Linked DNA regions of Homo sapiens: region 1 is linked to region 2. A link means that fine-mapping ties the variant in region 2 to the expression of a gene that starts in the linked region. Tissue or cell type: whole blood. Region 2 holds a variant in brackets; the other region holds the start of a gene. All regions are shown on one strand. Distances are from middle to middle.

Region 1 (5,140 bases), 120 kb before region 2:
CAGCAAGGAGGCTGGCTGGGGCCTATCAGTGTGCCCCCCATCCTGGCCCATCAGTGTACCCCCGCCCAGGCTGGCCAGCCCCACAGCCCACGTCCTGTCAGTGCCGCCGCCTCGCCCACCGCATGCCCCCTCGTGCCAGTCGCGCTGCCTGTGTGGTGTCGCGCCTTCTCCCCCCCGGGGCTGGGTTGGCGCACCCTCCCCTCCCGTCTACTCATTCCCCGGGGCGTTTCTTTGCCGATTTTTGAATGTGATTTTAAAGAGTGAAAAATGAGACTATGCGTTTTTATAAAAAATGGTGCCTGATTCGGCTGTCTCAGACTCTTTTTGTACCTGGTGACCCCTTTTCAGCTTCTGCTGGGCTGGGGCCTGATGGGGAGGGTCTCGGTGGTACCAGGTCTCCTCCACCGCCATGGCTTCCAAGGTGGTCTGCTCGGGCCCAGGCCATCTTCCAGGTGGGGTGAGGCAGTGGGTCCCACTTCCCCTCCTACCCCTCCCAGCTGACAGTCCTCTCCACCTAGTGGCTGTCCAGTGCCCATTCCTCACCTTTTCCCGGGGAGGAGAGAGCAGCTTCTGCCACTTCCCAGGTAAGCAGGAGGAGGTGCCAACAGTGTTAGGCCTGGCACAGTGTCTGGGCTGACTGGGACCGTCTCAGGCCCACAGAACACCCCTGCACAGCAGGCACCAAGCTGAGGCCCCTCCCCAGAAACAGTCACAAGGCACCTCTTCCCTCTAGGTCACACCGCAGCCTCTGGGCCCTTGGCCATCTCTGGCTTCAGCCTCCTCTCTGGCCTCACTGCACAGCCCTAGTAGGGGTCCCTGAGGCCTGAGGGGAACCCCAGCACTAGGCCTCTCCTCTACCCAGAGGCTTCTGGTCAACTTCCCTTTCCCCAGGTCCCTGCCCTAGCCCCGCGGGTGACTAAACAGATACATGTTGCTGCCCACTCCACACAGGGCTTTGCTGGGCATGGCTGGGGCCCATGGCCAAAGCACAGCATGCCAGGCAGAGAAGGGAGGCAGGCAGCTGGGCAGGGTACTCAGGGCTGAATACAAGAGTCAGGGGCAATGGCCTTTGAGCCAGGCCTCCAGCATTGGTGTGGGAAGGAGGGAGGACATTTCTGAGGCAGGGAAGAGCCAGGGACTCATGAGTGGCCCAGGCTGGCCGGAGGACTATAGGAAGGAGCCATGCCTGGAGGCACTGAATGCCAGGCTTAACCTATCCCGGAGCCAGGTGTGTGCTCAGGGCCTGCAGAATGAAGATACAAACGACATGGAGTCCAGACCTGCCATGCTCAGGGAGCCCTTGAAGGTGCGGAACAGGGCTGAGAGTGGTGAGAGCTGGCTCTAAAGTGATTGCCTGGTTACTGAGTACAGGATGTGGGGAGGGAGGTGAAGGACAGGAGGCAGGGAGACAAACCTCCGCAGTGGGAGAGGAAGAGATGAAAAGAGGCCAGACGGGAAGAACGTGGTCCAGCAGAAACAGGCTGGACTTGGGGCTGAGTGAGGCGGGAGTCTGGGGAAGAGGGTAGGTGTGGTTGGGTTGGCTTCGGACATACTGATGGGATAGCATGGGATCCCTGGGCACAGAGATGTCCTGGAGTAAGCTGAAATGTGGACCTGGGGGTGGCATCAGGGTGACAATGGGAACGGACAGTCTCTCTCCCAGGGATGTGGGGGTCAGGGAGAGAGAGGAGGCCGTGGAAGAGGGTTGAGAAGGCACTGTCATGGAATTAAGTGCCAGTGGGGAGCTGTGTTCAAGATGGCAGAAATCAGGAGAGGCTGGAACCAAGAAAGTCCTGTCGGGGTTGAGTTTGGAGAGGGCTCAGGGAAGGGACCGCCTCTGAGAAAAGGGGTGGCCAGGGAGGGCTGCAGTAGTGGTGAGCAGGTGAGCTCTGGGCATTCAGAAGCCTTCGGGCTGCTACCAACCCCAGGACCTCACAGATTGACACCATAGCGTGGGGTGGCAAAGTGACCCCAGATGGCACAGGCGCCATGTGACTACAGGGAGAAGGCAGGGTAAAAATGGCAATCAGGCCTTCCAGCCCAGAGTCTCAGAACTGAGGACGCCCTACAGCAGGAAGTGATGCTCAAGCTAGCTGGCCCTCCTCAATCATGTTCCACGTAGGGAAAGGGAGAATAGAGGGTCAGCCTTGGCCACCTAGCAAAACCAGGGCCCCAGACCCCAGGCTGGGCCTCCAGTAATCAAGGGCCGGAACTGAGCTGACGGAGGCCTGCACCCTAGTTCCGGTGTGGGTGGAGGGGCCGGCCCTGATTTCGAAACTCGCCTTCCTCTCCTGACGCTGGCAGCCAACCGCAGCCTCTGCAAAAGGGACTCGTGCGGCGGGCGAAGGCAGCCGTTCGCCGCGGGCGGTCCTCCGCCGGGACGGCTCTGCCGCTGCCTGGGCCTGCGCCCCTCTCTCCCCGAACTCCTATCCCTGACTTCAGGGCCCCGGGGGCCGCCTCCCCGCATCGCTGGGCCTGCAGACACCGGCCAGGTCCCAGGGGAAGGTGCTTCCCGCTCAGCCGGCAAGCACTTAGTGGCGTCTGCTCGTTGCTCGTCTCCAGGCCGGGTGAGGGGAGCCGGGGCGCCCCACTTCACCCGCACACCCCAGCAGAGTCGGTGACCGCGGGACCTGGGGTAGGAAGACCGGGGCGAGCAAGGGGATCCGCGGGGGAAACGCAGGCATCACGGCTGCAGCAGGACCGCGGCCCGCCGCGCACGCGCGTGCACTACCGAGGGGCCCAGTGCCCGCCCCCTCCGGCCCCGCCTTCCTCTTCCGGACCCGGCTCCGGGGGTCTGCGCAGGGCTCGGGGCGCCTCCTGCGGGCCGCGGGCGGAGCTGTAACCGGGCACCGCCCTCCAGGCCGCCCCAGCGGACCCGGGCCCGACCGAGGTCGGGGCGCAGACCCAAGGCCGGGCATCTCCTCGGGCGCTCGCGGTTGCTCTGCCGCGCGCTGGCCTGGCCGCGGTTGCCATGGTTGCGGGGGGACGGGGGCGCGCGCGAAGCCCCGCCCCGGCCCGGCGCAGCCCCGCCCGCTCCGCCGCCCGCCCCGCCCTCCCTGCCGCCCGCGCTGCCGCCGCCGCCGCCGCCGCCGCTACTGCTGCGGGGGCCGCGGGGGGCGCAGCTGGGGCGCGGCTCGGAGGGGAGGCTAGGGGGCCGTGCCAGGCCCGAAGCCGAGGCGGGGCCGGGATGCGGCGCTGAGGCCCAGCATGGCCGGCCCGGGCCCCACCTTCCCGCTGCACCGGCTCGTCTGGGCGAACCGGCATCGCGAACTGGAGGCCGCACTGCACAGCCACCAGGTGAGGCCCCGCTGGGGCACCCGGCCCTTCCCCCGGGTCCCCCACCCAAGGCTGTGGCCTCCGTCCTGGAGCCCCCCCCCCCCCCCCGCCCGCTCAGCTCCGCAGCCACATCCTGGGCCTTCCTCCCCTGCACGATCCCAAGCCCAGGTCACCGGCCCCTCGCGCCTGAGCCTCTGGCCTCCTCTCCCCTGCGCTGGGCCTTGCCCTGCTCGCCCGAACTCGCTTCCGCATCCTTGCTGACCCAAGCTGAGAACAAGAACTCTGGTCCTGGTCCCCAGGTTCCGCCAAACTCCTGACAACCTGCAGCTCTGCCTGACCAGGCCCCGCCGCCAGACCCCGGCTCTGCCCCTGCCTTCCCTCCTGCCCCCTCCTCTCCCCTGCCAGGACACGCAGGCCACCCTCTGCCATCTCCCTGGTCAGTCCGCCGTCCTTATTTCCCACAGCGATTCCCAACCCTGCTCGCCCTGGCAGCCTCCCTGCCTTGCCCTCTTCTCTCCTGCCCTTTGTGAGTGTCCCGTCTCCCCCAGCACGACATTGAACAGGAGGACCCCCGCGGGCGGACCCCACTGGAGCTGGCCGTGTCTCTGGGAAACCTGGAGTCTGTGAGAGTGCTCCTTCGACACAATGCCAACGTGGGCAAAGAGAACCGCCAGGGCTGGGCAGGTACTGCAGAGGACAAGGGGCTCCCCCTGAGGCTGGCAGGCGGGGGGCAGTGAGCAGCCAGGCCTGGGGTCATCTGGAGGGCTCCCCTCAGCAGCCTGGTGCCCGCAGTCCTGCAGGAGGCAGTCAGCACTGGAGACCCCGAGATGGTGCAGCTGGTGCTCCAGTATCGGGACTACCAGAGGGCCACGCAGAGGCTGGCGGGCATTCCGGAACTGCTCAACAAACTTCGCCAGGTACAGCAGGGCACAGTTATGGAGGTGGGGTACCATGGCAGGGCACCACCCTGGTTACTGTGCCAGGCCTGGCCTTGGAAAGGCACCCAGTTTGTGCAGTGTGCCTCCTGCCACCAGCAAGGAGGTCTGTCTATCTTGACCCCAGCCCAGGGTCACGTAGGAAAGAGAGACGGCCAGGCTCACGTGGGAGAGACTGGACCCTTTGGAAGAGAAGCCTTGCCAGCTTTGGGCCTCCTGAAGAATGCAGATTACCTGGAGCAGGGACTTCAGGTTGACTCGGTGGATTATGGCCTGAAACCCTGGAATACTTGCTACTACGCACCCTTCTGGAAGCACACGGAGGGGCCTGGCTGGCAGAGCATACTATCTCATACCCCCTACCCCAGGAGCAGGCTCGGAGGGAGCCACTGTGCCCCCTTTACAGAGTAGGACTCTGAGACCCAGTGGAAACAAAGGCTCCCCCAGGGCTCTGCACAGGCTCATGGCCAGGTTGAGGCTGGCCCTCCACCTCCAGGTGCTTACAGCCTCATTGTCTGAAGACCACTGTAGTGCCCCACTTGGCCCACCCTCTCCAGGGCAGAGTGGTTGGGCGTAGCTGAGCCATAGCAGTGCGTCAAGACTTGATGAAGGGCCAGGCGTTGTGGCTTACTCCTGTAATCCCAGCGCTTTCTGAGGCCAAAGTGGGCGGATCACTTGAGCCCAGGAGGTGGAGACCAGCCTGGGCAACATGGTGAAAGCCGTCTCTACAAAAAGTACAAAAATTAGCTGGGAGTGGTGGCACACACCTGTGGTCCCAGCTACTCGGGAGGCTGAGGTGGAAGAATCACCTGAGCCCAGGGAGGCAGAGGTTGCAGTGAGCCGAGATTGCACCACTACACTCCAGCCTGGGTGACAGAGCAAGTCTCAAAAAAAAAAAAAAAAAAAAAAAAGACCTGATGAAGGGCTGG
Region 2 (5,140 bases):
CCGATTCCGCGCCGGGACCCCCGCCCCGGCCACAGGTCCGCCTCGCCGGGGCCCAAGCCATCTTTGAGGCCCAGCAGCTGGCAGGAGTGCGACGAGGCGCCAAGCCTGAGGTGCCTCGGATTGTGGTGCAGCCCCCGGAGGAGCCCAGACCACCGCGGCGGAAACCCCAGACCCGCGGCAAGACTTTCCATGGGCTCCTGACTCGGGCCCGGGGCCCCCCCATCGAGGGGCCCCCCAGGCCCCAACGAGGCTCCACCTCCTTCCTGGACACCCGCTTCTGAGAGGACCATGGACTTAGTGTCCCCCAGTCTCAATTGCCTGATGGCTGATGCCGGCCCGGCAAATAGGCACCGCACTTTACTCTTGGGACTCGGGGACTTGGCTTCCTTCCTGGCAAGGACCAGGCAGTGGGGAAGGAGGAGGTCCTCCGTGGTACATACTGGGTCAGGCACTAGCATGGAGGAGGGTCACAGAGTGGGGCACGTGAGGACCCATGGAACCGTCCTGGTGCCCAGGCCCTCACAAGTACCAAAGCCAGCACCAAAGGAGTCAGGGAAGGGGTTGGCTGAGTCAAGGGACCCCAGAGGGCACCAGGAATAAAATCTTCTTGAACAGATGCCTTGGATGGCGCTGGATCAAATGCCCTCCTCCCAACCCCAGACAGGCAGCCCCTTCCCCTCCTCCCTCATCTGCCCTTCCCAGCCCCGCCCTCTCCTGGTCCTGCCCTGGGGACACACCGAGGCTGCCCACTGGCCGCTGGGGAAGGTGTTTACAGTAATAAGAGCCAATTGAAAGTTGCCCTGCCCAGCCTCTGGGGACAGGAGTGGCTTTTGCACCTGCAGGAGGAGGGCGCCCCAGTGGATGGCGAGTCCAGGGGCTCTACCCCCTCTTCTGCCCTCCTTCCCCTCCCTCCAGGGTGGTTCAGTACTCGCTGGGATGGGGGACTCTAACCCAAGTCCTCCCCGCACCCATGGTTCTAGTCACATCTGTCAAAGGGATCCAGGCAAGAACAAAGGCCTAGTGTGCCTCGGACAAAGGAGAAAGGTCCCGCCAGCCCTCACCCCTCCCTGGGCCCTGCGTCTGCCCCCTCGGGACCGCCACCATGGAAACCCCCTCCCACACTCACTAATAGCCCCCGTGGGTGCCCAGGACCTGAGCCATCGCCAGGGCAACAGGGCTGGTTCCGACACAGGCGTGTGTCCCGCAGTGTCCATTCCCAAGTGCCCTCCCTTCGATGGGGAACACGGCAGGACTCCATATGGATGGGAGGCATCTGCAGGCCCAGGCTCCAGGGGTGGCCATTGGGTGGGGTGTCAGTGGAGTCACCTGTCAGACTCTGGGTTTGGAATGTTCTTGCGACAGGGCCACAGGCTGCGTCTATGTGGCAAGTGCCAGGTCCTGGGTCCTGGGCAGACTTGTCCTACTCCCAAGGAGCCTAACCCCTGGAAGAGGGAATCATGGCGGCCCAGACCCTTCCTTATCTGTCGTTTCTCCGGGGGAAACTGAGGCTCAGGAGGAGCAGGAACTTGCAGAAAGCCTTACTATCTATCCATAGCAGACCCAAGGTTTAGCCCTGCCCCAACCACTGGCAGCTCCCCCCTGGGCAGCCCCCTGGGAGTGCTTTCTCCTGCTCCTTCCCCGCTCTACCCCCAATCCTGCACCAGCCCCTCAGTGTGTGAATGAGGCAATAGCCAGACTCCCGTGATTTAGAGCGCGCTCCAGAGCCTCCTCTGCCCACTCCTCCTTACCCCGCTGGGGTGCCTGCAACTTAATAATAGCCTCCTTACCTGTAGTTTACAAAACCCTTTCCCAGACCCCCCGCCCCTAGGCCCTCTCTCTGCAGGTGGCCCCTGATATCCCTGTTAGAGACACAGGCTTAGTGAGGACAAGGACCTCACCCAGGCCCACAGTGAAAGGCAGAGCCGGCTGGAATGCAGAGGCAAGGCTCTGTGCTGTGTAGACTATGCCTTATCCTTAGACGAGGAGTGTCTTGGTGGAATCTCAGGCACTGTAGCGGGCAGGGTGGCCGGGGTCAGGGGGCACTTGTCCCTGAAATCCACTTGGGAGCTCCCCGCCCTCCACAGTTCAGCTCTTTGCCTGGGAGAATAGAGGAGCAAGGTGCAGCAGCCTCAGCCCTGGGCCGAGGGTCTGTCATGAGCCTGCGGGGGCGCGGTGGCAGTGGCTCACCCTGGACACAGACCCTAGGAGCCGGTGGTCTCCAGCAGCGTCCCTCCAGCTGGGGCTCAGTCATTGCCTTTCCTACTCAGGAGACTGTTTTCTGGGCAGCTCTTCTGTAGGTTTCCTTATCAGTCACCTGCATGGGAGCCCTAACTCACAGGCTGGACAGAAGAGGCCCAGTGCCCTCCGGGTGTGAACCCTCGCACACATGCGTTCTCACAGGCTCTCCTCCGCAGGGCTGCACCGGCCCCCACAGCACCTTTTTGCCAGCTAGGGAAAGACGTCTCTCCTCCAGGCAACATGCAGCCTCACCAGAGTGCACGGTGTAGCAGAGTGGGGTGTGATCTCTCTCCCAGGTGCCTTTGTGCAGTGAGCAACCTACACAAACATGCTCAGTGAACCTAGAAAGTCCCTACAGATCTGCCTGGAAGGGGGCTCAGAGAAGGGAAGTGATGCATCTGAGAGGACTCAGTGTGTGGGGACTGAAGCTGGGAGGGCCCCTGGGATGTCTGTCAGCCTGCCTCAGAGTGGACACGAGTGGGGGCATGCAAAGGAGTGGAGCAGGACAAATGGGTGCCTGCCATGGATCGGCGGGGAGGACCCACGGTCTCCATCTTGCCCTGCCACCCACTTGAGGTTCCCTGAATTCCCACACTGTTCCAGGCTCCCAGAGGGGTCAGACTTGGACTCACCTGCATGGGAAAGGCCCTTTCTTCTCCTCTGAGCCTCAGTATTCTCCTGCGGATAATGGGATTATAATAGCCCCCACCCCAGCCTCAAGAGGGCTCTACCAGCTCATGATGATGATGATGATGACTGTTCAGTCCAGCGGGACAGCAGCCAAAGCACTGCCTCTCCTCACCCCACCCCTACCTAGCCTCAGGTGATGTCCAGGCTTTCCT[G/A]GCAGGGGCAGAGCAGAACCACCCGCCCACCTGCCTGCCCCAAGTCCCAGGATCCTGAGCTTGGGCTGCAGCTGCCCAACTCTGATTTTCCTCCCTGTATCCACAAGGCAAAAGCCAGAGCAGCCAGGGACCAGACAGGGTGGCCTAGGAGAGGGCACAGCCGCAGCACTCTGTGCATGCATGCACGCATTCTGGCAGAAGATCCCGGCTCTGCCTCTCACCAGCTGTGTGACCTTGGGCAAGTCACACGACCTCTCTCAGTCTCATAATTGCTCCCTTGCATGTGAAGTGTTAAGCCTGGGCTGAGTGTGCACTGTATCCCCATTTGAAGATGAGAAAACTGAGTCCCCAGGGCTGCAGAGCTTGTTAAATGTTAAATGTCAAAGCTCATGCTCTTTGGATCACGCCCAGGCCCCACAGTGGGACCCCATGGGCGCTCAGGCCACCCAGGTGGCAAGCGATTGGGTCTCCTGGGGTGGTTGTGGGACCTGGGCCCCTCCCCTTAGTGATCTGAAGCTCACTCTCCCCAGCCTAGAATGGGGCTGGTTCCTCATTCCTGGAGCCTGGACCAGCTGTAGGGAGGGCTGCACGTGGGCCTGGAAGTTGTGTGGGGAATGTGGGCTGGACTGGGCATCCTGGAGAAGCCATTTCCCCTCTCTGCCGACCCTCTCCAGTGGTAGACAGGGATGGGTCTGCACAGACTGCCCTGTATATAGTTGCAGAAAGGGTCCAACAGCTGTCATCTCTGTCCCTGACATGTGTGGGCCCCTCAGTATTCTCCCCCAGGCCAGGAGGCTCTCAAGGACAGCCAGGGCTCAATATGTGTCCAGTTGCGAGACAGGCAGGGAGAAGGGCTGACTGGGGACTGTGAGAGGGAGGAGTTAGAGCCATAGGCTGCCCTGCCTAGGAGAGGGAAACCAGCCCCATTCTAGGCTGGGGAGAGTGAGCTTCAGATCACAAAGGGGAGGGGCCCAGGTCCCACAGCCAGAGCTAGGATTGAAACCCACTGGTGGGACACACTCCAGGAGAGGGGGTGAATCTCTGGTTGTGCTTCTGTGGGTGAATTGTGGCTGAGACCCAGGTCTCCTGGGGTATGCTTCTGTGGTTGGGTGGGTACACTTGGGTGTGAGTATGTATGTCTTGGGGAGATTATAGCTTCAACTCCGGGTGTGAAGTTGACCTGGGTGGGTGTTGATAAGCAGAGCAGATTTCTTTTCCTTTCTTTTCTCTTCTTTTTTCTTTCTTTTTTTTTTTTTTTAAAGAGATAGGGGGGCCAGGTGCAGTGGCTCACACCTGTAATCCTAGCACTTTGGGAGGCCAAGGTGACCAGATCATGAGGTCAGGAGATTGCGACCATCCTGGCCAACATCATGAAACCCCGTCTCCACTAAAAATACAAAAATTAGCTGGGTGGGCTGGGCGCGGTAGCTCATGCCTGTAATCCTAATACTTTGGGAGGCTGAGGCGGGCAGATCACCTGAGGTCGGGAGTTCGAGACTAGCCTGACCAACATGGAGAAACCCTGTCTCTACTAAAAATACAAAATTAGCTGTCATGGTGGCGCATGCCTATAATCCCAGCTACTCCAGCCTGGGCAACAAGAGCGAAACTCCATCTCAAAAACAAAACAAAACAAAACAAAACAAAAGTAGCTGGGCATGGTGGCTCGCACCTGTAGTCCCAGCTACTTGGGAGGCTGAGGCAGGAGAATCACTGGACCCGGGGAGGCGGAGGTTGCAGTGAGCCAAGATTGTGCCACTGCACTCCAGCCTGGTGACAGAGTAAGACTCTGTCTTAAAAAAAAAAAAAAAAAAAAAAGGGATAGGGTCAAAAAAAAAAAAAAAAAAAAGAGAGAGAGATAGGGTCTCGGCTGGGTACAGTGGCTTACACCTGTATTCTCAGGACATTGGGAGGCCGAAGCAGGAGGAGCACCTGAGGTCAGGAGTTCAAGACAAGCCTGGCCAACACGGCGAAACCCTGTCTCTACTAAACACACAAAAATTAGCCAGGCGTGGTGGCGTGTGCCTGTAATCCCAGCCACTCAGGAGGCTGAGGCAGGA

Evidence for each region. PIP is the estimated chance that this variant, and not a neighbour inherited with it, causes the effect.
Region 1: ANKRD13D starts here. The variant in region 2 is fine-mapped to the expression of ANKRD13D in whole blood (TOPMed, PIP 0.93).

The regions. Positions count from the first base shown.
Region 1 is chr11:67,286,254-67,291,393 of GRCh38, forward strand. ANKRD13D (ankyrin repeat domain 13D) reads left to right here and starts at 3,050. Exons shown (of 15, transcript NM_207354.3): 1 at 3,050-3,297; 2 at 3,825-3,960; 3 at 4,069-4,193. The coding sequence starts at 3,208. It overlaps GRK2 (G protein-coupled receptor kinase 2), which reads left to right. Exons shown (of 21, transcript NM_001619.5): 21 at 1-303. RefSeq lists enhancers at 956-1,205, 1,956-2,165, 3,400-4,324, 4,325-5,140 and silencers at 2,386-2,455, 2,636-3,405.
Region 2 is chr11:67,409,474-67,414,613 of GRCh38, forward strand. It overlaps TBC1D10C (TBC1 domain family member 10C), which reads left to right. Exons shown (of 9, transcript NM_001369496.1): 9 at 1-616. The coding sequence ends at 281. Among named protein-coding and RNA genes, the nearest start is that of CARNS1, 3.6 kb to the right of the region's middle. RefSeq lists enhancers at 2,403-2,542, 2,569-3,070, 3,071-3,570. The variant G/A (reference allele first, on the strand shown) is at 3,081.